4 linked regions of the Homo sapiens genome follow. The protein of the gene in region 1 interacts with the protein of each later gene in a biochemical or structural test. Each region holds a gene or a part of one and is shown on either strand. Other genes may lie near its edges. The genes, in order: SNX9, LRRK1, DNM2 and ASAP1.

Evidence for each region.
Region 2: the proteins of SNX9 (region 1) and LRRK1 form a complex in vitro, tested with the Homo sapiens proteins (2 studies listed by BioGRID and IntAct, with this or other methods).
Region 3: the proteins of SNX9 (region 1) and DNM2 form a complex in vitro, tested with the Homo sapiens proteins (2 studies listed by BioGRID and IntAct, with this or other methods).
Region 4: the proteins of SNX9 (region 1) and ASAP1 form a complex in vitro, tested with the Homo sapiens proteins (one study listed by IntAct).

The regions. Positions count from the first base shown.
Region 1 is NC_000006.12:157,938,222-157,945,245, reverse strand, and holds the end of SNX9 (sorting nexin-9), read right to left. Parts: intron 6,614-7,024; coding exon 6,499-6,613; intron 4,364-6,498; coding exon 4,272-4,363; intron 2,456-4,271; coding exon 2,408-2,455; 3' UTR 169-2,407; downstream 1-168. UniProt on the Homo sapiens protein: Involved in endocytosis and intracellular vesicle trafficking, both during interphase and at the end of mitosis. Required for efficient progress through mitosis and cytokinesis. Required for normal formation of the cleavage furrow at the end of mitosis.
Region 2 is NC_000015.10:100,915,011-100,922,377, reverse strand, and holds the start of LRRK1 (leucine-rich repeat serine/threonine-protein kinase 1), read right to left. Parts: upstream 3,022-7,367; 5' UTR 2,927-3,021; intron 1-2,926.
Region 3 is NC_000019.10:10,819,058-10,826,081, forward strand, and holds part of DNM2 (dynamin-2), read left to right. Parts: intron 1-922; coding exon 923-1,032; intron 1,033-4,730; coding exon 4,731-4,842; intron 4,843-5,999; coding exon 6,000-6,164; intron 6,165-7,024. UniProt on the Homo sapiens protein: Catalyzes the hydrolysis of GTP and utilizes this energy to mediate vesicle scission at plasma membrane during endocytosis and filament remodeling at many actin structures during organization of the actin cytoskeleton.
Region 4 is NC_000008.11:130,111,674-130,118,697, forward strand, and holds part of ASAP1 (arf-GAP with SH3 domain, ANK repeat and PH domain-containing protein 1), read right to left. Parts: intron 7,003-7,024; coding exon 6,816-7,002; intron 6,574-6,815; coding exon 6,488-6,573; intron 5,323-6,487; coding exon 5,207-5,322; intron 5,073-5,206; coding exon 5,005-5,072; intron 4,342-5,004; coding exon of another isoform or gene 4,159-4,341; exon of another isoform or gene 4,141-4,158; intron 4,063-4,140; coding exon 3,955-4,062; intron 650-3,954; coding exon 421-649; intron 1-420. UniProt on the Homo sapiens protein: Possesses phosphatidylinositol 4,5-bisphosphate-dependent GTPase-activating protein activity for ARF1 (ADP ribosylation factor 1) and ARF5 and a lesser activity towards ARF6.

The sequences.
Region 1 (7,024 bases):
GTGAGTCATCTTTCTTGGTGACCCCAACACCTACAAACCATGCAGTGGGTTGACATCCCGGGACTGCTGCTCCTGGTGGGAGGCAACTGACGTCACTTGCTTGACAACGAGACTGACCTTTTCTTCCACCACGCCTTCATCTCTCCTCTCCAAATACTGACTTTTTTTCCACTATATTTGTAAAAGTTATGTGATTGTATGACTACAGCTCTTCTGTGGTACCTACAGGTTGATACAAATCATTAAAAATCAAAACATCAACGTATCTAAGAACCAAATGGTGCATGTGACTCCCCGGAGAAGGATATATATGCCATGTTGCCACTTGAAGGAGAATCTTCCAGGCATCAAATCCCGTGGATTCTCTTATTTTCTTTCACATTCCCTCTGCTTTTCCTCACAGTCGGCTACCACGCTCTGAGGAGCCCGTGCCATCTCCATTTCCCCCATCCCTTTTTCACTTTGCCTCACACCAGTCAAATCCAAATATCCGAGAGTCAGACACTGGGAGACTGTCTGCTTCTTGGCAACTCCCAGGTGGTTATGATACGCTTCCCGGACCGCAACACTGACCTACGGAACTGAAATGATGAATTCATGTCAGAAGAAATAGGATTTGGGGAAGAATTCATTACCTGGACCATTTTCAGCAGCTGGAATAAAAAGTACTTAACAACAACAACAAAAATCACACACAAAGTCCAAAAAGTGTTTTGAAAAAGTGCTTTGAGAATTTACTGTACAGTTTTTTTAAACAATTTATTTATATGTTGGCTTCTACATGCTCTTACATTCGTGTAAAACATTTATACATATTCTTTACAATTTGTACATATATTAAATGGCTATAGCATAAACATTGTTCTATGGGATTTTATAGAAGAAAAATCAAGTGGGGAGAATTACTTATGAAACATTAACAAAAACCCGTGATATTGAAGAACAAGATGTTCTCATATTCATTTGATTTCATCTACTTATTTTTGGTGTCATTTTATTGATGCTGGCCCAGACTTTCCATTTCCCGTAATTATTAGGTCAGAAAAATGAAAGCAGCGGGAGGGAACGCGGTAAGGCACCTGTGGGAGACGGGAGCGCTCCTCCGCAGGGGTGAGACGGTGGCTGCCAGTGTTGAGTTCGAGCTGACGGTGTGCCAAGGTCCTGTTTTGCTTTATGCCGTTAAGTGAAGCGCTGGAAGTGCTGGTGCTCAGAAACACCCTGTGTGAAGTTTCGGATGTAGTCGGGAAGGGCGCTGGTCTGTTCTTTCTCTCCAACCTCAGAGCGCCGGGGACTCTGTACACTGCTGAGGCTGCAGCCCTTCTCAGTCCCTACACTTTTCCATCTAATGGGGAGCTAACCTGTGCTTTTTCTCTTTGCTGATGACACCAACTGGCCATGAACCCGCCACCCAAGCCAAGCAGTGTGCCGTGGCCACAGCAGCGCTTCTCATCACGGTGGATGAGGAGCCAAAGAATAAGAAAGGGCCAGAGACGCCGGGGTGCTGGGTGCCCTCCTTCTCCCAGGCCCTCCCGAACACAGGCCTCCGCACAGCCACTCACCCGTTGGACCAAAGCCACAAAATTCTCTACAAAGTCCCTCAATTCTTCTAATGTATTCTTCATGGCATAAAACATGCCTTAACCAAGATTAGGAAGGAAGTGCAAAGAGAGAAAGCACTGGTCCTCACATAAGAGCAGCACATCAGAAATGTCGCTGAGGACATGGGTGGCCAGGGGTATCTGCTCATCTGCCAGGCTGTGGGGTCCCCCTGGAGGGACATGGGATGGCCCACCTGCCACACACCACGATGGCACTAGCAGCCCCAGGGGCCCCCAGCGTCCTCCCTCTTGAAGTGTAAGCACTTGAGCTGTAACTGTGGCAGTGAAAGGCGTAACGACTTCCCTCAATGACAGGAGCCCCAGAGGACTGAAAGGAGTTATAAAAATATACAAACATAGATATTTTTTATTCTGGCATAGTTCATGTTTTTAAGAAAGTAATTAGTAATTAATTATCTGACACTGGGTAAGAACTGGAAGATTGTGGGAGACTTATAAATTATATAAGACTTATAATTTATAAGACATATAAATTATGACTCTATGTAAAATATCAGTGGGGAGAAACCCCTCATTTTCCATTGAAAATTCTGGTAACTTTTAAGTACTTTCCAAAAATAGAGACAATTTCCACTGGTTTAAATAATGGATGCGGAAATGAACAAAAGACCATCCCTAAATAACTGACGCATTTAGGGTGGCTAATAAAATAAATGCAGTTTTTTGCAACTCTTTCTTTTTGGTTTTGTTTCCTTTTTTTTCTGAATAATAGGGGAAAAAAAGTTTTGAATTGCATTGCCCCAAGTCAGGAGAAAGCACGCGGCATTCTCTTCAAGGCCCGTTCTGTCCTACATCACTGGAAAGCGGCTGAGGGCCTGCCTCAGCTTTTCTGCAATCTGACAAGAAAGCAAAACAAAACAACGTTGAGATATCACTCCCATTACGACCTCACAGTGTTCTTTATTCACAACTCCAACAAGTTAAACATGACACAAATTCCAATTCTTTAACTGGTCTTTTTGGCACCAGCCCTGCCCCGCGTTGCTGCTGGACAGACCTTAACCCCGAATGACACCGGCAGCGCTGGGGCCCGAGCTGGCCCTGGTGGTCCCTTCCCGCCGGGAGGCGTCTACACATGCTCCCCACCTCTGCCCTAGCGGCGCTTCCAGACCACCTGCTTTTCCTCAGATGAGCTGGGGGCTCAGGCCTTCATGTTTGCCTAGAGCCCCCTCTTTCCTGGAGGAGTATGAGCTTCCAGAATCCCCTGAAGGTTGTGTCGCCCTGGCCACACCCTGCTGTCACTGCTGAGTGTGCAGACAGCACGAGCCTGCCTGTGAAGCTAACGAGGCGCTGCAGTGGTCTCTGCGCCAGGGCCTCTTGCTCCTTGAAGGCACAGCTGTCTTATCCATCCCTGGATGCTAAACATCCAGCACGAGGGCTTGGTATATAAGAAACACTCAATATATGTCTGCTCCATGAACACATACACAAATTTTAGTAACTTAAGGGTTACTTTGCCATAAAACTTAGATCTAAAACCTAACAATGTTATATCAGCTACTTAGGTTTATGCAAAGACAGTGATGAAATACATGGTTTTCTATTCTGAATTACAATGTCACTATACCATACCTGGACTTGAAAATCAATAAATCAACACTATCAAAATTTTGAGAGTTGCCCTTGCATTATTTTCTCACACAGACAAATGTAATCTGTTATATTCTAATATACAATGAAAGGCAAATCCACAATGGCACCAACTGACGGGAAAAGTGTGCATTTAAAGAGCATAGGGCCCACGTCCTGTAAGGGAGGACAGGGCTTAGGTGAGTTCCTCCCGTAAGTTAGTCTCCCAAACCAACTGTCCAAGACACAATTCACAAATATGCATTAGGTACATCAAGCACAGTTCTCCTTTAAGAACTGGCTGCTGGAGACAGGCGTTTTCAGCAGTGTCCAGCTCGCAGATGCCACCAGTATGGCTGAGCAGAGGGCTTGCTCACCACTCCCCATGAACATGGCTTAGATCCCATGGCCAGAGGGGAGCTGGGTAGGCAGCAAGGCCGCCAGCGGAGGCTGGATTCTACATTACAGACCTTACCTGCAGGTGTCTGAGGGAGACATGCTACTAGATTTTTGTTTTCTATAGACTCTGGTAAACAACAAAATTACTAAGCAGAGGTAAGAAAAATTTAAGTTTTCGTTATTGTTTTGTGAATAAAACCATCCCACATCTCGCTTTTTTGGTTTTCTCTCTGCGATTTCCATGGCGCACTGTGAAAACCTCATTCACAAAAAGCAAAGGCTGCCTTTGGTTTCCTGTGTGGTGCCAGGCTCCTGTTCCAGCTGCCAACGGAGTCCCAGGGACGGCTGGGTGACCTCATCTCATTCAGCACCGTTCCTGGTGCACAGAGGCACAGAGAGGCTGTGACGGGGGGAAGGAGCTGCACAATAAGGAACTTCTTGGGGCCTTGCAACTAGCATCCAAGACCCCTGCTTCAGAAGAAAATCTTTTTTAACCCAGTGTTATCCAAAAAGCAAAGGGCAGATGGAATTAGGAGATTAAAAAAATCCTGTCCAAAATTTAGGCTCCTTTGGTTTATTACTTAGGATTAAAGAATACAAACAGATTAACTTTACATGGTCAAAGTGGTTTACCAGGAACCCTCTCCTCAAGCACATGCGAAAGGCACGTGGACGCCCACTCACCGTTTCGTAAAATTGCACTTGCTGCTCCAGGTACAGGCGGATGACACTGTTGTAATCATAGATCCGGTTACTGTGAAAGTGATTCATCTCAGCTACAACCCAAATCAGAACATCAATCAGTTTTCCCTCAAGTTTTCAAATGACAACACCTGGTTTCTCTGCTCAGTTACAATTAATCATCAACCTGACCTAATCTGGTTGGCTGCTGTTGTCAGTTCTTGGTAAATCACTTTACTAAGAGGTTAGAAAAACAAGTTGAGCTGGGCGCAGTGGCTCACACCTGTAATCCCAGCACTCTGGGAGGTGAGGTGGGTGGATCACCTGAGGTCAGGAGTTCAAGACCAGCCTGGCCAGCATGGCAAAACCCCATCTCTACTAAGAATACAAAAATTAGCCGGGCATGGCAACAGGTGCCTGTAATCCCAGCTACTTGGGAGGCCGAGGCAGGAGAATTGCTTGAACTCAGGAGATGGAGGTTGCAGTGAGCCGGGATTGCACCACTGTACTCCAGCCTGGGTGACAGAGCGAGACTGTCTCAAACAAAACAAACAAAACAAAACAAGCTAATGACAAACATTACTTTCCAGTAAATGAATGACTTTCACTGTCTTGCATATTCAAAACTATAAAATCCAATACAGATAAATCACCCAAATGCAGCCTATTACTCTAACAGAATCGATCAAATAGAAAATACTTGGTCATATTTGTTACAGATGACTGCAGTTCAAAGCCTCTGGTGTGTCTGCACTGGACCTAGCAGGCAGCTGGGGTCCCTGCCCCGCTCCCTCCTGCACAGCAATTGCTTCAGCAGGTTTCTGGTGAAAGGCTGGGCAGCGTGTGGGACAGCGGGAGACCCTTCTTCAGTACGGGAAGCCTTGCTGCCCCTGAGCACCAGCGACGCTGTCAGAACTCAACCTCTCACAGGGCAGGAGGACTGGATGCTGAGGGACAACTTTCTTCATGTTTGCTGAATACATGGATTCCTTCTTTCTCTGTCCCCCCTGCCCCTGCCCCCAACTCTAGAGGAGTCTTCGTCATCAGAGGACCTCATTGCCTCCCTCGGATGCCTCCTATGCCGCCTTCTCCCAAACCCTCCAGGCTGAGAAAGCCAGCGGCTGCACAGATTCCCATGACATGCAAACTGTTCTACATTTTACATTCAGTTACTTGAAGTTATACAAAGCTTTGTATTTCTCAATTTGGATAACCTCAAACACAAGTTCAAAACCAAACTCCCCATTTCAAACCCTTCAAAACCCGAAACTTCAATCAGGGTTCCTCGTTTTTGCCGTAGTGGCCTGGCTCTGGACACCTCCCTCATCCTTCTCTTTCTCCCATGAATGCCCCAGTCTTGAAAGCTGTTCCTTGGAAAAGCCTGCAAATGTGCTTCATTCTCTTCTCCCCAGTACCACATCTTTAGGCCCTCAAAGCTCAGACTACAACAGTGAGATGGTCTTCTGGCTGGGCTCTTGGACAGTGTCTGCATCTTCCAATCTCCCCTCCATAACCAGCAAATCCTTCTCCCTTGAGGATTGATTTTTTTTTACTCCCTTTTAATGGCTTCTTAATGCCTGCATCAAGTCTAGAGCTTTCAAGTTCCTTCACAATCAAAATTTATTTCCCAATAACCTCTAAGTATGTTTTACTCTTTCATGCCCATGACACAATCTAGCACCACAATTTTGTGGCTTTTGTTCCTAACAGAACACGCTCTCCATTCTCTGCCCATCCAAGTGCCATCCACCCATCCGCCAACAGGAAAAATCCACTTGCTGCCCTCATCTGCTCAAAAACACTCAAACCTATAGAAATTCATCTTTTTTTTTTCTTGACACAAAAAAATTGTGCCTAAAATGACACACCCAAACCCCTTCACATTCCATGATCCCAAGGCACGCAGGTTACAGACTGCTAAAAGCTGGGCTCTGGCATTTAATAGAGCATTATGATACCACAGATTACAAAAGGAATCTTAAATGTCTCTCAGAAATAATAAAATGTACAGTTTTAATCAAGCTGTCATCTATAGCCAGATAAGGTGGACAGGTGAAAAATTAAATAAATATTACAGATTTTCATCAGCACCGGGATCCTGCAAACGAGGGGCTTAAAAGGTCTCACTTACTTAACTGCTGCTCACATCTGGATTTCTCTCTATCAAGGGAAACTTTGCTGGGGAAAAAAAAACTTCCACCAGCACCTCATAAGGACCCTTTCATCTTACCTTGCAACGCGTAAGACATGATGCTGACTCTCTTCACCATGTTCTGTTTGTCTTGTAGGGTGATTTTACTTGTTGCAACTAGTTTGTCACTTTCTTTCACTTTTTCTATTGCTCCCTGTGAAATATAAAATGCAACAGTATGAATAAAGCTGAAATGATTAGTCATTAGTTTAAAATATAACAATGCTAATATATTCTATAACTGATTTGCTACTGAACAGGAAATACCTCCACAAAATAAGAAGAGAGGAAAGCATCTAAATTTAACTTCCTTCAAGTCCCTTGGAAGCAAAAAGGTTGCTATTCTTGACAAATGTCACTAAGCTAAAATGAACAGTTTTATGCTACAACAAAAGAGAAAAGCAAACAGCACACCATCTCTGTAATATTCAGAAGCCGCTGCCATTTGAGGAGTAGCACGTAATGGAAATCAGGCATTAGCAGGTTTTGGAAGTCATGTGGCTAGGTACAGGGCAGCATGTGCACACAGGCACTCTCTCTCTTTTTTTATACAACAGAATATTTT
Region 2 (7,367 bases), on another chromosome or scaffold:
TCCTTTTGAAAATCACTTTACCAGTGGAAGACTCTGCCCCTGGAGCAGTTTTAAAATTCTAGTTACTATTTTGGCTTATATTCTAAGGTAGAAGTTTTAAGATGAGGTAATTCAAATTTTGCTCAATCTTTGCCCTCAAACGGATCTTTGCTTCCTCCTGCTTCTTTTGGGTCCAGAGAGGTGCCAACAAGTGATGATTACAAGTTACATGTCTTCATTATACACCCTAAAGAGGGCATCAAGAGGTTTTCAGCAGTAATGATGGTTTAAATGATTTTTCAAAACCTCATCAATTTCCTTTTGCCAACTATTTATACCTGCATTAATGAATAAACCTAAACATTTAATGGAAAAGAAAATAGATGGGTGCGGTGGTTCACGCTTGTAATCCCAGCTCTTTGGGAGGCCGAGGAGAGTGGATCACTTGAGGTCAGGAGTTCGAGATCACCCTGGCCAATATGGTAAAAACCCATCTCTACTAAAATTACAAAAATTAGCTGGGCATGCTGGTGGGCGCCTGTAATCCCAGCTACTTGGGAGGCCGAGGCATGAGAATCACTTAAACTGGGGGAGGTGGAGGTTGCAGTGAGCCAAGATTGCACCACTGCACTCCAACCTGGGTGACAGAGCAAGACTCTAGAGAAAAGAAAAGAGAAGAACCTGTCATTCATTCTACAAATGTCTTATTGAGTTCTTTCTATGAAGAGGGAACTTCATGAGTTTGTGAAGCTGGTGGGGGAGCAGACAGCTAAGTAATTGCTATAAAGCTTCTGACAGCAGAGAAGCCCAGATATTTTAGGAGGCTTGGGAAGGACTGTCGATATCAGTTAGAAGTTAGAAGTCCCTTGCAAGCAAAGCATGCTAGACATGCTCATTCATATCACCTAGTTCCTTTTTGAAACAAAATCCTGGTCAAAATGGTTAGCCCATGATTCTAGAAATCTCTTGAGTGCTATTTGCATCCCTTACTAGCATTGGCTTTTGCCTATAAAATGTGTTTAATGGGTTTGGGGGCATCCAAATATCTTGGAGCTGCAGGCCAGAGAAATATGTTGTTCTCAATCCCAGATGAGCCCAAAAAGGGTGGAGGAGAGAAATGCTCCATGAGTCTGAAACCACAGGTAAGTTAGGGTTGTCCATTCCCCATCCAGTCACTCTACCACCATGCACGGGGTATCTCCCTGTACAGTTATGGGAATGAGGGCACAGCAATAAGCAAGACAGATCAGTCTCTGACCCCAAGAGCTCCAGTGGAGACCACAAGATAATTAAGGAGAAATTAAACAGATAAAGAAGGAGTACAGAATGGGGACTGCAGGGAGGCTGCAGAGTGAGGGATGTGAGAGGGAGCGTGGGTTTTCAGAGGGTGACCAGGGAAGACTTTCTGAGGCTGTGTGAAGAGTCAGGAGGCAGCAGTGCAGGGGACCAGTGCTGGACAGCAAGCTCAGCCAGTGTGGCCTGGGGCAATGGCCTGGTGGTCCGAGACAGCAGAGGCTGGATCAGCTGGGGGTGTGAGGAGAAGGAGGTCTCCTGGATTGCGTGCCAGTTGCAAGGAGAAGCTACTGAAGGACTCCATAAAGAGGACTGATATGGTCTGATTTACCCATTTAAACACACAGACACACACAGACGCACGCTGCTATATAGAGAATGGAGGAAGGGGGAACTGAAATCCTACAGTAAAGAGATGCTGGTACCCTGGACAAGGGGCAGGGTGGGGGGTGGGGGCATAAGAAAAAGGGGACAGATCAGGACACATTTTAGACATAGATTCAACAGACTGAATGTTTTTTATCTGAGGATCCGAGTTGACTGCGAGGTCACTGCCAGAGACATCGACTTTTGGGAGAGGGAAAGGTTTGGCTGACCGCAAAACCTCCTTTAGGAACAAATTAGGTGTGAGGTTAGTTTGTTATATTATTTTCTCTTTCAGGACATAGGCAAAGATGAAGAGAATCAAATCATAAAAGGCGTTTAATGTTAACATTTTCCAAAATTGTGCATGTTCTAGCTATCCCTTTAATGTCTGGGCATTTTGATACCCTGTGAGTGGCTGGCAAACTCTATCATTAGTGTACACGGTGAGAGGTTTGCTGAAAGCTATATGCCCCCGTTTCTCTACCTGTTGCAGGGGAAGTGTTCGTGGGAGAAAAACTTCGCGGCCTCATACTGTGAAGGGGTAGGTTGAGATGGCCACGGGGGTTCTCAGATTCTCCACCAGCGTCTCCTCGCTGACCCCGGCCTTCCTAGGCTTCCTTCCCGCGTCCCTGCCTGCCAGGAAGGTCCCCTGTAGCTTGCAGAGACCATGGTAGACAGAGCAGTTGTATCTGCGCCAGCCAGAGACCACCTGGGCAAGAAGCGTGACCCAGACATCGAGGAGGGTGAAGCCTCGCTGGGCCGCCCCGCAACCCCAGGAAGCCCCGGACCAGCGAGAGGCTCCCGGGCGGTCTCTTGCCGACACCCCGGCACGGGCTCACCCGCGCGCTCACACTCCGCCCGCTCCCCGCTAAGGGACTGGGTTCGCTCCAAAGGCAGAGGAAACCTATGGGCTCCCCGGCTCGTGTCTCCCGACTCGTGTCTCTTGCCTCCGCTTCCCAGCTTTCCCGACCCTGCCCGGACGGGGTTTCGGGGTTCCCTGCTCGGGCCCCGCGCGCTCCCCTCCCACAGGCTGGCTGGGCTCCGGGCGCGGCGGGAGGCAGCGGGGACGTGAGACCGGGGTCGCCCCACACGCCCTCCGCGCCCCTCGGGCCGCGGCCCCTGCGCAACGGCCCCCCGTGCCCGACCACGCGGCCGCCCGGAGCGCAGGGGCCCGCGGGCAGGCAGAGGCCGAGGCTCCCCGCGGGCGCCGGGCGCGGGCTCTGGGTTCCCCGGGCGGGGCCGGGAGGCAGCCAGGCCGCCGGGGGGCGCCGGCAGGAGCGGCGCTTACCTGAGGCGGCGGCGGGGCCGGGTGCGGGCGCTCCGGGACGCGGGGCCGGGCGGACACACTGGCGGGGCCGGGGCCTGGCCGTCCCACCGCCGTCTGCCCCCCGCGCCGGGGCCGGGCCCAGACGCACTTCCTCAATCCTGAGGCGGGCGGGCGGGGAGGGCGGCGCGAAGAGCGCGCAGAGCAAGGCCGCCGCCAGCTCTCCCAGGAACCGTCGCGAGGCGTCCCCTCGGCGGCCGCCTCAGTTTCCCTGGCCGTAAAACGCGGGCGATGGCGCTCGATGCCCCGGGAGACGCCGGGGTCCGCGGGCCCTTCCGGCACCGGGTCCTCCTTCAGGTTCGGGCACCCGGCTGCCTCCACGCGGGGCGAGCGCGGCGATGGGATCGGTCCGTGCTGCGCTCAGCCCCGCTTTCGCTATCCCTCTGCTCCAGGGGCAGCAAAATCAGCAGATGAGCCCCCAGCGCGCCTGCGGCCCACACACTGCGGCCGTAACAGTTAAACAGACGGGGAACATTCATGTGCGTAGAGCTCTTCACGGGGCGATACAGAAATGTGTCGTTCTAAAGCGTTAACGACCTGCAATTTGCATATCCTCCAACACATGGATTTTACTGATTCAATTATGGATGTGTGCAAAGAATCTGCTGCTCGGTGAGTCATTGTTAATTGTCGGCTTTGGGGGGAATACATAAAACGTGGAATATTGGCAATTTATCGTGTTTCGACCTTTTATAAAGGCGTCACCAGGCTGCTGAGGCTAATACAGAAACGCAGACCATAAAAAAGATCTGCGTCCACGCTGCAGGCGGGCCTCACGCTGAGCTCCCCGTGTCGACCCGGGGACAAAGCCTGCTCAGGAAGAGCAGAGGGTTCCACGCCCTGCAGGACCAGCGCCCTGGGCCCCTCTCCTGGAAAGTTATGACTCGCACGTTCCCAGGATTTAGCGCACATCTCCCCCACCCTCACTGCCATTTCACAGAACCGGGGCAGCCGCAGGGCTCCTGCAGGACCTCCCGGACGCCGCGGGGCCGTGTTCCCTTGAGCGGCTTCTTGGGTCCCTGGTTGGAGAGGGGACCACCGAGCAGCTTCGCTCTGCTCCTGGGAGGCTACTTCTGCCACTGGACGACTTTCCAAAAGGGTGAGCGCAGTTCTGCAATCCTGTTCTCACCCCTGAGGGCCTCACACCAGTTTGCAGGAGCCAGCAGTGTGATTGCCACCGACAAGTTCCCAACAATTTGCAGGGCGTGGTGTCCTCAGTGCTGAGAGAGCCCCGCGACGGCGGTGCAGCTCCTCCAGGGCGCGCAGCCCCGCCACCTGGCGCCACCGCGAGGGAGCGCAGGCCCAGGGCCCGGGCAGACGCTGGAGGGGACGCGGCAGGTGAAGATGGGGCACCTCCACTTCCCTTCTAAAGGAGCCTGGGAATAGGCTAGGAAATGTCCCCACTGTAGAAGACAGCAGGAACATCTGACACGCGGATAACCTGTGCTGAGCTCGTTATATTCCCAGCATTTAATTCTAGCCATTAGGCATGCGTTAGCCACAACTTCGCATAGGAAGGTTATTGCAGGTAAGTTAAGACTCCTTTCCACTTCTTCCTAAGGGTCGCTGACCCATGGTTCTCTAGCTTTTGCTGGTAATCCCACCCAGATTCTCAGCACCCTAGGTTGGAATGACCCCTCCTGAGGTGGGTGGGGTAGCTGGGAGGCACCTCCCTGAACTGACTTTTCTGCCTTTTTGAAGGTGCAGTGGCTGAGCGCTCCTTCAGTGTTTTCCGGTTGTCTTTCTTCAGCCCAGTACGCAGTTTCCTCAGACAGTCTTCCTTGAGCAACTTCCTAAACGCCCTTCATTATCCCCCTTCAAGCTCATGCCTAGGAGCAAGGAGCAAAGCCATTAGAAAGGCTTCATCCACCAGCAGGAGAAGCTAGGACATCCCAAAGGGTCCACTTCTAGAGAGGTGCCAACCCCCACACGCACACCAGGCACACAAATGCATGTGTGCACACGCATACCACACCCTCCAATTGTCCCCAGAATGGCTCCCTTCAGGGAGTCATGTTCCGGGACACCAAATGAGGGAAAATATCCTTCTCCTACAGTTTCCTGCTCACATTTGGATTGAGAAATGGGATGTCTCTAAATAATGTGTCTAAATTCTCTTAACATAAGTGCATATGTTACGAGAGATCTGATCCCAGCCTCCCTTTTTTGTTAAAGTGGTGGTGCTTTGCCACCCATGTCAAAATGATCTGGGCTTTCCACATCAAATGCAAGGGATGAGCTTGGAGGACATACCCCAGTACCAGCAATGATCTTGAGCCAATGGCAGCGTCAGCTCACAACGGGGTGATTGAGGCTTCTTGGTTAGAAGCTTTAGAAACTTGAGGTCAGTAAAACCCAAATTGATCCTTTCTCTAGATCCTCTAGATTTCTCTAGAGGAAAAGGTGACAAAAACAGACACTTGTGCTCACCGTCAGGGGCACAATGCTGTCCGTCAATCCTCATGCAGTCCTCCCCACCATTTCGCACACTGACACCATCACTACTTTATGATAAAAGGAGACTCAGGCAGCTTAGATAACAGCTGAAACTCAGCCAGCTATGACATGGAACCTCTGAGGCCCAGCTCCTTGCCTGGTCAACCCCCAAGCCCACAGAAATGGGTTTCACACTCAGGCAAAGCACTGGGCCCGACTGACTGAGCAAATGTAATTTTATGCTTACATTATTGATCCTGCTTTAATATCAGCCATTTCGTACAGGTCTCAGAAAGAGAAAGGCCTGCCATCGAATTCAAATGACTTTGGTCTTTAAATGAAAAAGCACAATGTTTCTCAAATATCCAATTTTATTTTATCATTCTCGCATTGTGGGATGCGATCTGCAGCTAGGATCGGAATTCCCAGGCCTATAGATTTTTAAACCACACCACAGGGGTAAACCTTAAAAGAAGTGAAACCTAACACTATATATATTTCCATTTCTAAATACAGTATATTACAGAAGTTTAAATATACCACCTCTGTGTACTTACAACTATAAAAAGATACAATAACTCTACCAATTATAAATAATGTAGCATTTCATATTAAAGACATTATCGTACAATGGAAGAATAGGAACCCTCTAACGTATCACTATCAAGGTTAGTGTCTATATCTACTTGAGATAAAATACTGAAAATTCAGTGTATGAAGCCAAATCCTGATTTAACAAGTTATTGGTAGTATAAGTGATAAGTGTTAGCTGATGAAGGGAAGGCAAATGTGGTAATTTATATCTCTGACAAGGGTGATAGGCCCATTTTATACATGGTTTTCGTTATACACACACTGGTTCTGTTACGGGCCCTCATTTTATTATTGCCCTCCCCAACTTAATTTGCAAACTTAAGCACTACTTTCCCAATTAGGAAAGTACTAGTTAGTAACCATAAAAGTATCCGTCGGATAACACATTTGTTTTTGTTTTTGAAGCTATATGGGAACACTTTCAGTTTCCCAAGTTAAAACATGAAATTGCACATCATCATTTGGATCCCCAAAGAGGAAAAGAAAAATTCACAACCTGCCAGTGAAATACTCAGGCCACTTGGATGAAGACCGAGGTCCTCCATAGAATCCAGGTGTTATTTACTAACTAATCAGAAATTAATATCAAAATAGGACTTAAAAATAACAAGGCTGTGTTATTACAGCAGTCTTTCCAGTTGTGTACGCTTTACTAATCTAAATTGGGTAACAGAACTGGAGAAAAGGAAGACTACACAGACTTATCATAAGCTGTTAGTGAACGTGATAGAAATGCGTAATTTGTTAAAGCGAATTACAGCTCTGATTTGTCAAATGAGGAGGTGAATTATCCTAGGATTTGCTATGCTGTTGTGGCGTTAGAAGATTGGATCTTTAGCAGCAAAGGTAACCTCAACAATATTTTCTGCTTAAGAAAGTGCCTTGGTTAAGGTAGACCGTGATATCGTCTTTGACTAAGCTCTCTGGGCTATTGATTCTGTCATATTCCAAAGGCAGTATTGGTTTGAAGCCGAATCTCACGGTCAATGTCAACATGCAATCCACAAAGACCCTGGCGCCCTTCCACGGTATGCACTAACCAAAACTTTCTCACTGTGAAATCCTTTTTTTAAAAACAAGAAAACAAAAAACAAAAACCAAAAAACCTTACTGTGAATCCTTTCCCAAGGAATGGTCCCACCTTCACCTCGGAAAGAGGCGTGGCTTGCTCTGTAAGCAGGTCCACCCTGAGGAGACCGCTGGTGCAAGAGCCCTGCTTGCAGAACACACAGGGGGTTTTCCCACATTCTTACTGGAGTCAGATTCGGCAAAGCATTTCAAGCAACTGCTGGACACTTCAAATACCACTCCCTGTTAACAACGCCCTGAGTATCTCACTGTCTCCAGGATCTGGTTTAAAGGGAAACACAGAAAT
Region 3 (7,024 bases), on another chromosome or scaffold:
CTGAGCTGCCTCCCTAGCAGTCTGGACAGCCGTGGCTGGCACTTGGTGCTTCCTGAACAGGGCCAACCTTAGAAAGCAAGTGATAGGGCAGGTGCGGTGGTGCACACCTGTAATCCCAGCACTCTGGGAGGCTCGCTTGAACCCAGGAGTTTAAGACCAGCCTGGGCAACATAGCGAGACCCCATCTCTATTAAAATAATGATAATGATAATAATAAAGAAAGGGAGTAAGGCTTCTGCAGCACCTGGCCCAGGACCTATCCAGCCCCAAGATGTCCTAAAGCGGCCAAGGTTGAAATCCCAGCCCTGCTCCTCTCTGCCTCAGTCTTCCCCTCTGTAAAATGGCATCACAGAGGTAACTCACTCCTAGGCTCGTTTCAAAGATGGAGCCCAGATAAAAGTTCCATTCACTTCGTGCAAGGCGAGGGGCAGTTGTGTTGTGCGTGCCGTCAGCCACATGTCAGCAGTGAACTCAACAGGAGTCCCTGCCCTGGAGAAACTTGAGTCAGTCCAGTGGCAGTCAGCCACCTAGGTCAATAAGCACAGGCAGTCAGGCACCTAGGTCAACAAGCGCAGGATACGTGACGTGTTGTGTGAGGGAAAAGGAGGATGGAGGTGGGGAGGGTGCGGGTAGAGTTAGGGCAGGAGGGAGCCATGCAAGTGTCAGGATCAGGCAGTAGCCCGGTCGTCCGAAGGCCCTGGGGTAGGAACCCAGGTGGGATACTCAGGGAGCATCATGGAGGGCAGCGTGGCTGGGACAGAGTGACGGACGGGGAAGGGCCGGCAGATGGGCTCATATACAGCAGCGACCAGCATTGAGAAGCCCCCGGGGCTGGTGGTGGCGCATGCTACACGCTCTGGCCTGGGGCATCCTGAGTTGTCACGTGGACCGCTCAGGGTGACTCTTTTCCCTCCACCCTCAGGAGAAAGAGAAGAAGTACATGCTGCCTCTGGACAACCTCAAGATCCGTGATGTGGAGAAGGGCTTCATGTCCAACAAGCACGTCTTCGCCATCTTCAACACGGAGCAGAGGTGAGGGGCCCAGGGGCCTGGGGATGGCTCGGGGTGAAGACCAATGGCCTCATTCACACTCCACAACCTTCACTGAGCACTGAGCACCTGGCTGTCAGCAGTCCCTGCCCTTGGGACCCAGCTTTTAGAAAGGGGAGTCACGTGAGAAATAGCAAATGCCAGGGATGCTTCCCGTGCTGGGTCAGAGATGACCTCTCTGGGCAGAGATGAGGATGAAGGCAGGCTCCGAGTCAGTGGGAGCCATGGAGAGTTCTGAGCACAGGGTGACCAGGACCTGGCTCAGGTGCTTGCAGGAGCCCTCTGGTGGCTGAGAGGGAAACAGTATGAGAGGGTGAGAGATGGGGGACGAGGGCAAAGGCCGCTGCCTTGTCCAAGTGGGCGATGATGGGGCCAGAACCCATAGGGAAGGAGGGTGCAGATTCTGGGTAGAAGAGTCAGGCGGAGCCCTGGTGGGCATGGATATGAGAGAGAAAGGCACCAATTGTGACCCTGAGTACGTGGGCCTGAGCTCCTGCACTGCCCAGCTGCTGCCATTGGCCGAGGTGGGGAAGGCAGCGGCAGGTAGGCCTGGAGACAGCCAAGAGCTCCATTTAGGCCATGCCAAGGGAGAGGGTGCATCAGGGAGGCACCTGGGTAGATCGAGGAGTGTGATGTCCAGGAACGAGCTCCAGTCTGGGATGTGAACTGGGCAGTCACCATTGCGTGGATGGTATTTCAAGGAACGAAACCAGATGAGCTCCCAGGAGAGTGAAGCTGGAGAATGGGAGGCCCCAGGAAGCTCACAGTACATCTGTCCCATGAGGCGTAGCTGGAGACTTTAGCAGAGACACTGCTCTCAGGAAGAAACCCAGCTGGCAGGAGGGCTCTTCCCATGCTCACACAATCACGCTCATCCAGGAAGCAGGGCCCACCTGAGTCAGGGATTAGCTGTCAGTAAAGGCCCGGTGGTACCCTGAGACCTGTAGGCAGGCACTGACGTCCTCCCTGCTGGCCCCAGAACCTCCTTGCCTACTGCTTGGCTACACCCACCAACTCCAGCTGAGTCTCCTGGTTCCCTCCTGCTTTGCTCTGGCTGGCCTAAAGCTCGAGACCCATTTGTCCACCAGCTGGCCGTGAAAACCTTCATAGCTCTTCTAGGCTTGCCCCTGGCCATATGACACCTGGCAGCTGTCCCAGGTCCCTGAGCCGTGTGCCTCCTGTACAGGGAGGGTGACAATATTATCTGATATATCTTTTAAGAGCAGGTTCAGGAAACCCAGAGTAGTAGCTGCAAAAACAAGATAAGATGGTTGATAGTTTTTTGTGTAAATTAAGTCCAGACTTTAGTATCCCGGGCAAAGTGGAGCAGCTCCACAGGCATCAGGGTCCAGGCCCTGCATGTTCCTCAGGATTCCACCTGATATGCAGAAGCCGAGCTCTGCGGTGGGACAGGCCTGCCATGAAATCCTGACTTTTTTTTTAAACGGAGTTCCGCTGTTGTTGCCCAGGCTAGAGTGCAATGGTGCGATCTCAGCTCACCGCAACCTCTGCCTCCTGGGTTCAAGCGATTCTCCTGCCTCAGCCTCCCAAGTAGCTGGAATTACAGGCATGCACCACCACGCCTGGCTAATTTTTTATTTTTAGTAGAGACGGGGTTTCTCCATATTGGTCAGGCTGGGCTCGAACTCCCAACCTCAGGTGATCCACCCACCTCGGCCTCCCAAAGTGCTGGGATTACAGGTGTGAGCTACTGCACCTGGCCCAAAACCCCGACTTCTACTTCTTTGTCCAAAATGGCTGCCCAGACTCCAGCCATTGTGATGATGTCCCAGGCAGCAGCAGGAAGGAGAGGAGGAGCTACAAGGGCATGCCTCTCCCCACACAACCTCATCCAGAGGTCGTTCGGGGCAGCCACTTGCTGACCACAAACCCAACTCTCACTTAAAGGCTTTGTGGGCAGCTTGGCTGTCTTAACCACACCTGGATGTGGGACAGGAAAATGTGCGTGGCATGTGGCACGGGGCCTGGCCTGTAGACCACCATCTGCAAGCACTGTTTAGCATCCATTCCATTTATCTCCCAGCTTTGAGACCCTGGTTCTTTTTTCTTTTTCTTTTTCTTTTTTTTTTTTTTTTGAGATGGAGTCTTCCTCTGTCACCCACCCAGGCTGGAGTGCAGTGGCATGATCTCAGCTCATTGTAGCCTCCACCTCCCATGCTCAAGTGATCCTCCCGCCTCGGCCTCCCGAGTAGCTGGGACTACAGGCGCACACCACCATGCCCAGCTAATTTTTGTATTTTCTGTAGAGATGGGGGTGTTGCTGTGTTGCTCAGGCTGGTCTCCAACTCCTGAGCTCAAGCAATCCCCCTGTCTCAGCCTCCCAAAGTGCAGGAATTACAGGTATGAGCCACCATGCCTAAACTTTACAAAAATTTTTTTGTTTTGTTTTGATACATAGTCTCACTCTGTCGCCCAGGCTGGAGACAGTGGCACAATCTTGGCTCACTGCAACTTCCACCTCCCAGGTTTAAGCGATTCTCCTGCCTCAGCCTCCCGAGTAGCTGGGATTACAGGCATGCAGTACCACTCCCAGCTAATTTTTTGTATTTTAGTATTGACGGGGTTTCACCATGTTGGCCAGGCTGGTCTCAAACTCCTGACCTCAGTTGATCCTCCTGCCTCAGCTTCCCAAAGTGTTGGGATTACAGGCGTGAGCCACTGTGCCCAGCCAAAACTTTTTTTATAAAAAACACACAGGCCGGGCACGGGGGCTCACGCCTGTAATCCCAGCACTTTGGGAGGCCGAGGCAGGTAGGTCACGAGGTCAGAAGATCGAGATCATCCTGGCGAACACGGTGAAACCCCGTCTCTACTAAAAATGCAAAAAATTAGCTGGGGTGGTGGCAGGTGCCTGTAGTCCCAGCTACTCGGGAGGCTGAGGCAGGAGAATGGTGTGAACCCGGGAGGCGGAGCTTGCAGTGAGCCAAGATCGCGCCACTGCACTCCAGCCTGGGCGACAGAGCAAGACTCTGTCTCAAAAACAAAACAAAACACATTCGGGCACAGTGGCTCACACCTGTAATCTCAGAACTTTGGGAAGCCGAGGTGGGCGGATCAGCTGAGGTCAGGAGTTCGAGACCAGCCTGACCAACATGGAGAAACCCCATCTCTACTAAAAATACTAAAATTAGCCAGGTGTGGTGGCGCATGCCTGTAATCCCAGCTACTCGGGAGGCTGAGGCAGGAGAATCGCTTGAACCCGAAAGGTGGAGGTTGCGGTGAGCCGAGATTGCGCCATTGCACTCCAGCCTGGACAACAAAAGCGAAACTCCGTCTCAAAAAAAAAAAATAAATAATAATAATAATAATAAAGTTCTGGTGGACAGTGCTGCTCTGGGCTTTCCTGAAAATGCCCCAGTGGGAGCTTCCCAGCCACAGTTGGTGTCGAGGGTCACATGCCCACCTCTGGGGGCCCAGGAAAAGAGAAGAGTCAGCTGATCCAACAGAAACAAAGAAACTCAGACACTTGCCGAGCTTGTGCACAGCGCTCTTCTGTGTAGGCGTCACTCACGGTGACCCCTCAGCATGACCAGGTGAAGCCTGGGTTGGGTTTGGGTTCCTGATCAGTCAGAAAGACCCCTAGAGCCCATTCCTCTCGGCAGTCTGCCAGACCCATGGCAGGGTCAAGCTTGTGCCCCTCCTTCCCCACCCCCCCGCAGAAACGTCTACAAGGACCTGCGGCAGATCGAGCTGGCCTGTGACTCCCAGGAAGACGTGGACAGCTGGAAGGCCTCGTTCCTCCGAGCTGGCGTCTACCCCGAGAAGGACCAGGTGAGGAGCCGTCCTGCGCAGCCAGGCCCAGAGCCCCCACCTGGGAGAGGAAGCAGGGCTGGCTTTCCCCAGGACAGGTCATTTTCAGGCCATGTTAGCCAGGAGTCTCTGAAATCATGTAGCAGATGCCCACTTGAGCAAGCAAAGGAGAAATTGGGGGTACTTTGTCATCAGGGCCCAGAAAGTTCCCTCACGGAAGCCAGTGACCGGGGCACACAGGGGATGGGGTCCCACTTGCTTTGTTCTCTTCTCTTTTCCCCTTCCATCCTGAGGTAGAGTGAACATGGCCACCCTTGGCCCCAATATTAAAATGCCTTGCCGGGCACGGTGGGTGGTTCGCCCCTGTAATCCCAGCACTTTGGGAGGCTGAGGTGGGCAGATCATTTGAGCTCAGGGGTTCGAAACCAGCCTGGCCAACATGGTGAAACCCCGTCTCTACTAAAACTACAAAAATTAGCCAGGCATGGTGGTACGTGCCTGTAATCCCAGTTACTCAGGAGGCTTAGGCAGGAGATCGCTTAAACCCGGGAGGTAGAGGTTGCAGTGAGCTGAGATCACGCCATTGCACTCCAGCCTGGGCGACAGAGCAAGACTCCATCTCAAAAATAAAATAAAATGTCCCAAGGTTGGGTGTGGTGGCTTACACCTGCAATCCCAACACTTTGGGAGGCAATGTGGGCAGATCCTTTGGGCCCAGGAGTTCGAAAACAGCCTGGGCAATGTTGCAAAACCCTTCTCTCCAAAAAATACAAACATACCCAGGCATGGTGGCGCACCCCTGTAATCCCATCTACTCCAGGGCGCTGAGGTGGGAGGATCACTTGAGCTCTCCCTGGGAGGTTGAGGCTGCGGTGAACTGTGTTTGTGCCACTGCACTGCAGCCTGGGTGACATAGCAAGACTGTGTCAAAAAAAAACAAAACAAAAAAACAACGTTCCAATGCCCAGGTGAGGGGATCCACCCCAGCATCAGCCAGGGTCACCCCATTGTTTGGGCAGCTCTGGCCCAGGGCAAGCAGGCCTATCTGGTGCCAGTGGGGCTGTCAGGGGCCAGCCTGAGGTCAGTTATTGGTGGGACAATAGGGCAGATGGTTTCCAGAGAACCAGGACTTGGCCCAGGCCACAGTCACCCCTCAGCACCTCCCCTCCCGCTTGCAGGCAGAAAACGAGGATGGGGCCCAGGAGAACACCTTCTCCATGGACCCCCAACTGGAGCGGCAGGTGGAGACCATTCGCAACCTGGTGGACTCATACGTGGCCATCATCAACAAGTCCATCCGCGACCTCATGCCAAAGACCATCATGCACCTCATGATCAACAATGTGAGTGGAGAACTAAAAATGAGAAGGAGGTAGCTGGGTGCGGTGGCTCACGCCTGTAATCCCAGCACTTTGGGAGGCCAAGGCGGGCGGATCACTTGAGGTCAGGAGTTCAAGACCAGCCTGGCCAAAACGGTGAAACCCCATCTCTACTAAAAATACAAAAATTAGGCTGGGCGCGGTGGCTCACACCTGTAATCCCAGCACTTTGCGAGGCCAAGGCGGGCGGATCACGAGCTAAGGAGTTCGAGACTAGACTGACCAACATGGTGAAACCCCATCTCTACTAAATATACAAAAATTAGCCGGGCACGGTAGCTCACGCCTGTAATCCCAGCTACTCAGGAGGCTGAGGCAGGGGAATCGCTTGAACCCAAGAGGCAGAGGTTGTGGTAAGCCTAGAGTGCACCACTGCACTCCAGCCTGGGCGACAGAGTGAGACTCCGTCTCAAGAAAAGAGAGAGAGAGAGAGAGAAAAATACAAAAAGTAGCCGGGCATGGTGGCGGGTGCCTGTAATCCAGCTACCCGGGAAGCTGAGGCAGGACAATTACTTGAACCTGGGAGATGGAGATGGCAGTGAGCCAAGATCGTGCCACTGCACTCCAGCCTGGTTGACAGAGCGAGACTCCATCTCAAAAAAAAAAAAAAAAAAAAATGAGAAGGAGGCCAGGCACCCTAGGCCATACCTGTTTGTAGTCTTAGCACTTTGGGAGGCTGAGGCAGGAGGATCACTTGAGCCCAGGAGGTTGAGGCTGCAGTGAGCTATGATCATGCCACTGCACTCCAGCCTGGGCGACAGAGCAAGACCTTGTGTCCAACAACAGCAACAACAAATTTGAATGAATCACCACCCTTTGAACAC
Region 4 (7,024 bases), on another chromosome or scaffold:
CTTTCCAGAGAACTGAAACTCCACTCCACATTATAAAAAGTACAGGTTCTGGAGCCACGTGGACCTCAGATTGAATCTCAACTTTACCTCTTACCAGTGGTGTGACCTTGGGCTGGTCAGTGTATCTCATTGAGCCTTAGTTTCCTCTTCTGTAAAATGGGCACAAAAGCACATACTTCACAGGATTGTTGTAAGGTTAACACAAATAATGCACAAAGAGAGCCCACAGCACTGCCTGTCCTGCTCTTGGTACCTGGCAAATGGCATGGTCCCTATTTCAAGCTGCTCCTGACAACACGATCCGCGCCACTCAAATGTACCTTGCAATTCTTACCTCAAAGCTGGCTAGACTATCAGCTCTGAGGATGGAGTCACAAGCCCTTCGAGGATGGAGTCACAAGCCCTTCTCAAAGCCCATACCTTTCCCGGCGTTCCTAGGAGGCAGAGGGGGAGCCTCCGTGGTTGGTGATGTGGGCGAGTCTGTGCTTGTGGAAACGAAGATCTGGTTGGTGAAGGCTCCATAGGAGAGCCGCTGTTTGTCCCTTGGAGTGCTGAATCCTGGCAGTGCCAGCTTGTCCTGGGGGGAGATGCTGGAGGAGTGGCAGAAGCTCTGAGGTCTGGGTGAGCGCTCTTTCTTGATAGGGCTTGGCTGGCAGATGAAATAAGAAGGTGAGATAATAATCAAGGACCACCCTTCATGTGTACAGAGGGCCTCCGCAGGGCGGGCTCAGGTGGGAATCTGGGTTCCTGTGGCTCTCTGAGCTTTATGAGGTCAGCCACAATGAGCCTCATGATGCTGACACAGTACAAGGGAAGGATCTAGATACCACACTTTCATATCGTTCACCACTATGAATAATCACACTAGTGAAACACTGGTTAGGATCAGCAGCAGTGTCAGAAGCACAGTAAGGTCACAGGTAGATTTAACTTTTAATAAGCAAACACCTTCAGAATGCAGGACTTTTTCAGCAACATTTGAATAGTATTTCCACCTATTTCTAATTTGCTACATTAAGTTTTGTTCCCTGCTCAACCCTTTAACGTTGAAGTTCTTTCTTTGCCTCTTTTCTCATTTTATATCCCCCTGCAAAGTAAACGGATTCACACCCACTGCCCGCTACACAATAATTACTTACAGATCTGTAAATACAACCCCAGTGACTTGTGTTCCAAACCAATGGCCCATGAGGTATCTCTGGTATTTGCGCTTGTGGTGATGGCATTAGGATCCACTCAACTGCCCAGGTTAGAAACCTCAGTGTCACCTGGAGTCCCTGGTTCCTGCATTCCCCTTGGAAATATCCCTTGAAGCCCCTCCTAGTACAGGTGCTCACCAGCTCCCACTGCAGCTCTAGCCTCCAGAATGGCCCCTTCTCCAGTTTCCTTCCTCCAGTCCATTCTCCACACTGCAGCCAGAGCTGGTGGGAAACCTTGCTCTTTAGACAATAAACCTCTGTGGGCTTCTGACTGCTTGCACAAAAACCCAAAGGCCAAACCTTGCCCACAAAGCCATCCTGATCTGGTTTGCCTGACTCTACAAGGCAGCTGCCTGCCTCTCCCCACCCAGCCAGGTGAATGCATCTCACACACAGTGCTTCTCTCCATTCCTCCGACATCCAGACTCTACCATGACTCCTTCCCTTGGCACGTGGTGTTCTGGAATGATGCATTCCACCCCACTTCTTTCCCTGGCAAGCTTCCACCTATCCTTAGAAACCCATCTCCAATGTCCTTGAGAAGGCAGACTGAGGCAGCTGCTTGGTCCTCTGAATAGCTCTCAGGAATTTTTCCATACTCTTATAATGATTATCACATTGTATTATAATTTATTTCCTCTTAAAGTTGTTAAGGCTTGAGGACCTCTTTGGCCATTCCTTACATCCTGCCTGTGATACAGGAAATGTCCAATACATAGGCAATCAATTAATGCATGAATGAACTTTCAGAGGTAGTTAACTGCTTATAAGGAAAACTCAGTGAGAACTGGGTTTAATCCTCCAAACTGTCTTTACTAGCTGGGAGACTTTAGACAAGTTGCTAAATTCTCTTTGTAAGTTTTCTCTTCTGTAAAATGGGGATAACAATGTCCCTTATGTACTTTTTTTTTTTTTTCCTCTGAGACAGGGTCTCACTCAGACACCCACACCCAGGCTGGAGTGCAATGGGACAATCTTGGCTCATCACAGCCTTGAGTTCCTGGGCTCAGGTGATTCTCCCACCTCTGCCTCCCGGGCAGCTGGGACCACAGGCGCACACCACCACGGCCAGCTAATTTTTGTATTTTTTGTAGAGAGAGGGTTTCGCCATGTTGCCCAGGCTGGTCTCAAGCTTCTGGGCTCAAGGCATCCACCCGTCTCACCCTCCCAAAGTGCTGGGATTACAGGTGTGAGCCACAGCACTCAGTTATGGACTTTCAATAAAGATGATCTGAGATAACGTAAGTGCTTAAATCTGTCTAATCCATATTTAATGAACATCATTCCTTAATGACAGGCATACATTCTGAGAAATGTGTTAGGTGATTTCGTTCTTGTGCGAACATCATAGAGTATACTTACACAAACCTAGATGGGAGAGCCTACTACACACCTAGGCTATATGGTATAGCCTATTGCTCCCAGGCTACAAACCTGTACAGCATGCTACTATACTAAACATTGTAAACAACTGTAACACAATGGTAATTACTTGTGTATCTAAACATAGAAGAGGTAAAATAAAAACATGTTATATAAGATTAAAAAATGGTACATCTATGTAGGACACTTTCCATAAATGGAGCTGGAAGGACTGGAAGCTGCTCTGGGTGTGAGTGAAGGCCTAGGACATTACTGTACATTTTTATACAACTCAGTGCAGTAGGTTGGTTTATACCAGCATCCCACAACCATTTGAGGAATGTGTTGCACTACCGTATTATGACATCTATGGCATCACTAGGTGATGGCTATTTTTCAGCTCCGTTTTAATCTTATATTGATCCCCATTGAGTATGCAGTGTGTTGTGGACTGAAATGTTATTATACAGTGCATGATTATGTTCAATAAATAACAACTGTTATTTACTTACTAATTACTTGTTTTGAAGGTTAATTTTTTTTTTTTTTTTTTTTAAGATATAGGGTCTTGCTCTGTCATTCAGGTCAAGAGTGCAGTAGTACAATCATAGCTCACTGCAGCCTCAAACTCCTGGGCTCAAGCAATCCTCCTGCCTCAGCTTGTCAAATAGCACCACCACGTTTTATTGATTGATCCATTTACTTTGTAGAGACAGGGTCTCACCATTTTGCTTAGGTTGCTCTCGAATTCCTGGTCTCAAGCGATAGTTCTGCCTTGGCCTCCCAAAGCGCTGGGATTATAGGCATGAGCCACCATGCCTAGCTTCATGGTTAATTTTATGTGTCAACAGGCTACAGTGTCCTGGTGTTTGGTCAAATACTAGTCTAGATGTTGCTGTAAAGGAATTTTTTAGATGCAATTACCATTTAAATGAGTAGATTTCGAGTCAAGGGAACTACCCTTCATGATGTGGGTGTGCCTCACCTAATCAGCCAAAGAAAGGCCTTAAAAAGACTGAGGTCCCCCAAAGGGTAAGGAATGCTGCCTCCAGACTGTCTTTAGCCTGAAGACTGCAACATTAACTCCTGCTGGGATTTCCAGCCTGCTGGCCTGCCCTGTGCATTTTGAACTTGACAGCTCCTTCAATCATGTGAGCCAATTCCTTAAAAAAAATTTCTCTGTCTCTCTCCCTATCCTGTTGGCTCTGTTTCTCTGGACAACCTTAATATAGCTGTTAAATGGTGCCCAATAAGGACTGAACAACATAAATGGCCCTGATACATTGGATCATAAAACCACAATCAATCAATCTCACCAAAAATGGATCTTGTCTACACAGACTAGAAAAGTTGGGGTAGTTGTTGAGAATTCGAGGACATAATTTACACTCACTTTGTCATCCAGATCATCATCGCTCTCATCTATCTCCTCCTGTCGAAGATTCCACTCATATTCTACGTGGACGTGTGGATTGAACTTTCCAGATTTAGCCTGGGAAAGCTGGAAGGAACAGCAAATGTGCACCATTTTAATTTAAATGCTGAAACATCCCAATATTATACAAACACTGAGCAAATCCCACCTTATTCCTAGTTTTCAATGAATCATCTGTAGGTGTACTATAGGCAACACTCTGCTTAGACAAGCTGCACTGCTATGTGACAGGCTCAAGAAGAAATGCAAACAATTGCAGGCAGAGCCTTCTTTATTTTGATGACTTGTCTCCAAAATTAAAAGCTTTCTTCTTATTAAATGGGCCTCAAACTTGCAAATTCCTGGCTGAAAGGCAAAACGAGTCTTTGAAGTTTAAGACGTAGGCTTTTAAGGTCCCAGTCCAATCTGTGGCCCCATTTTCTCATTCATAAAATGGGAGCAGGGATAATTGTCTCAAAGGATTCTTTTAAGAATAAAAAGGCCCAACTGGTGGGCCTGGAACCTGGCACTTAGCAGAAACTCAAGAGAATCACACTAATGTGAAGGCCCTGACTTGCTAAGCAAGAACTAGTAGGGTCAAAAAAGGTGAATGTGCACAGGAAGGGGAGGGGCTGGGAGAACAGTGTGTTAACATTTTGAAGACCACTACTCTCTGAGCTTTACTTGCCCAATTTTTGGAGCAGCTTCTCAAATAATTCTTTACTATTAAGCTGCAGAGAAAGTCTAATGGTCTGGGAAATAAAAAGCATGACCTCAATGCACAAGTCGATCTGGTAATAATACTTGTGTAATGCCTTTCACCTCCTTTAACTGCATTCCAAAAACATGTGGATGACAAATTTATCATTTTACCACTTTTTCTAATGTAGCACATTGCTCATCTGATTTTCTTTAGCAAGTGTTAAAAAAAAATGAATCTGCATTTTTAATATTCAATTCTAGCTTCTCAGAATGACACTTTTAAGGCAGCCAATGTCTAATAAATCTCCCACGTCCATTTTTGCTTACCAGATCTTCACACTGGGTAGCTTTTAGTCTCTTTGCTATGTCTAGGGCAGTTTCTCCAGCCTGGTTAACTGAAATAGGAAAAAAATTAATTTGCATAATTATCTAGGAAACACCTTAAGAAGGCAAGGAACAATAATCAAATTACAATGTACCATGCAACACACGCTTACTACAGTCATGAAGACACTAGACACACTCTTACCTATATCCACAGTGGGCTTGCTCCTGAGCAAAAGCTTCAAACACTCAGGTTTACTGTACATACTACAGTAGTGTAGAACTGTGTTTCCCAGGGCCGTCTGCTTATCCAGGTTCCCACTGAAAAATTAGATGATGATTAGAAAAAAATGACTTACTTTATAACTTAAAACTATAGATTAGCCACTTATTTTTGTGCTGACAACTGAGTCAAATTTGAGACCTAATTATTATAATAGAGAAAATTATGATGTTTCTAACCTAGATTTATAAGCAATACAGTGATAACAGGCAGTATTTATTTAGAGTGCCAGGTCCTATGGGACAGACACTGTTTCTTAACATTTACATGTATTAGTTCATTGAATCTTTACAACTATATGATGGGGTAAATACTAATAATAACCGCTTTTACAGATAAAAAACCCTGAAGCGCAGAGAGGCTGAAGTGCTTGCTTTCAAGATTTTCAAGATAGGGATGGTGAAGCAGGGATATTTGAACACAGGTAATCTATCTCTGGAGCCAATGTTTTGAGCCACTATGCTATATTGTCTCTGAGGAAGAAACCTGGACTTTTATACAATTTGGCTTGTGTCTATGTACCATTTTTCCTCTATGGGTTCAAATCCCCTCACTATTTTGATCTTCTTCTTTAGATGAGCTCTAGTTCCTCCTCATCATCTGTTGCTTACAGAACAGATAAAGAGAATAAAGAATCCAGCAAGTCCAAACTTCCTATATTCACTCTTATACTTCCATCAGTATATCCCAAACTTGAATGAGCTATTGATCCAGCCACACACACTGCTGCTGTCTTATATTAAATTTAGGAACAATGAAAACTCACAAATATGGTTGACCTGTGCTGTTAAGTCTTCTCTCTTTTAACCTCTCCTAACGGTTAGCAAATGTGTCCAATCTGTGCAGCAGATTTTTGGATACAGACATAATTTTACATTTATAAAGGCCAAGAGATGGCAAACTACAGCCTGTAGGCCATATCTGGTTCACTGTCTGTTTTTATAAACAAAATAATAAAGTTTCATTGGAATACAGCCACACTTGCTTGTTTACACATTGTCAGTGGCTGCTTTCACACTACCATGGCAGAAGTGAATAGCTCTGACAGAGAGACTTCATGCCTGCAAAGCCAAAAATAATTTTTATATCTAGCATGACACAGAAAAAGCTTGCCAATTCCCGATCTAGGCCACTGATAGGACTGGTTTGTGTTAATTTATAAGGCATATTCAGGTAATTCAACAGAGAAAACAAAAACGATACCAGTTTTGTACAAGGAAGTCAACCAAATGGAGAGATGTCTGATCTGCAGTTCGGACGGCAAGGTGAAGGGCTGTCTCCCCAAGCTCCTAAAAAGGGAAAGAAAAGTATAAGTAAGTCAATAATATGCTCTGCCAAGGGAGGCTTCATATATATCAGTTGCCCCCAAGTAATTATAAGGAGCACACCTCTTCACTCTCATATTCTCTTGATTTAGACATGGCCACCCAATGTATAAGAATCTCATTATATGGTATAATGTTAAAATAAGTCACCTTTTAAACTGATTTTCCACATTACTTTTTATCCAATGATTTTAGTGAGGCCTTACCTGCCCAGGTTCCAGCAGTGGTTCCATTAGCTCTACCCCTTCTGCATAGACTTGAATTAGTGCAAGTAAATCCCTGGATTTGATGGCCTCAAGCAATTCATTTAGTTTAGCTGATGAAGTTGAACAGGTCTTCCTTGAAAACCTATGATCTACATACTTTGCAGTGATATATTCTTTTCGTACAGTCCTAAAACAGAACAAAATAAAGA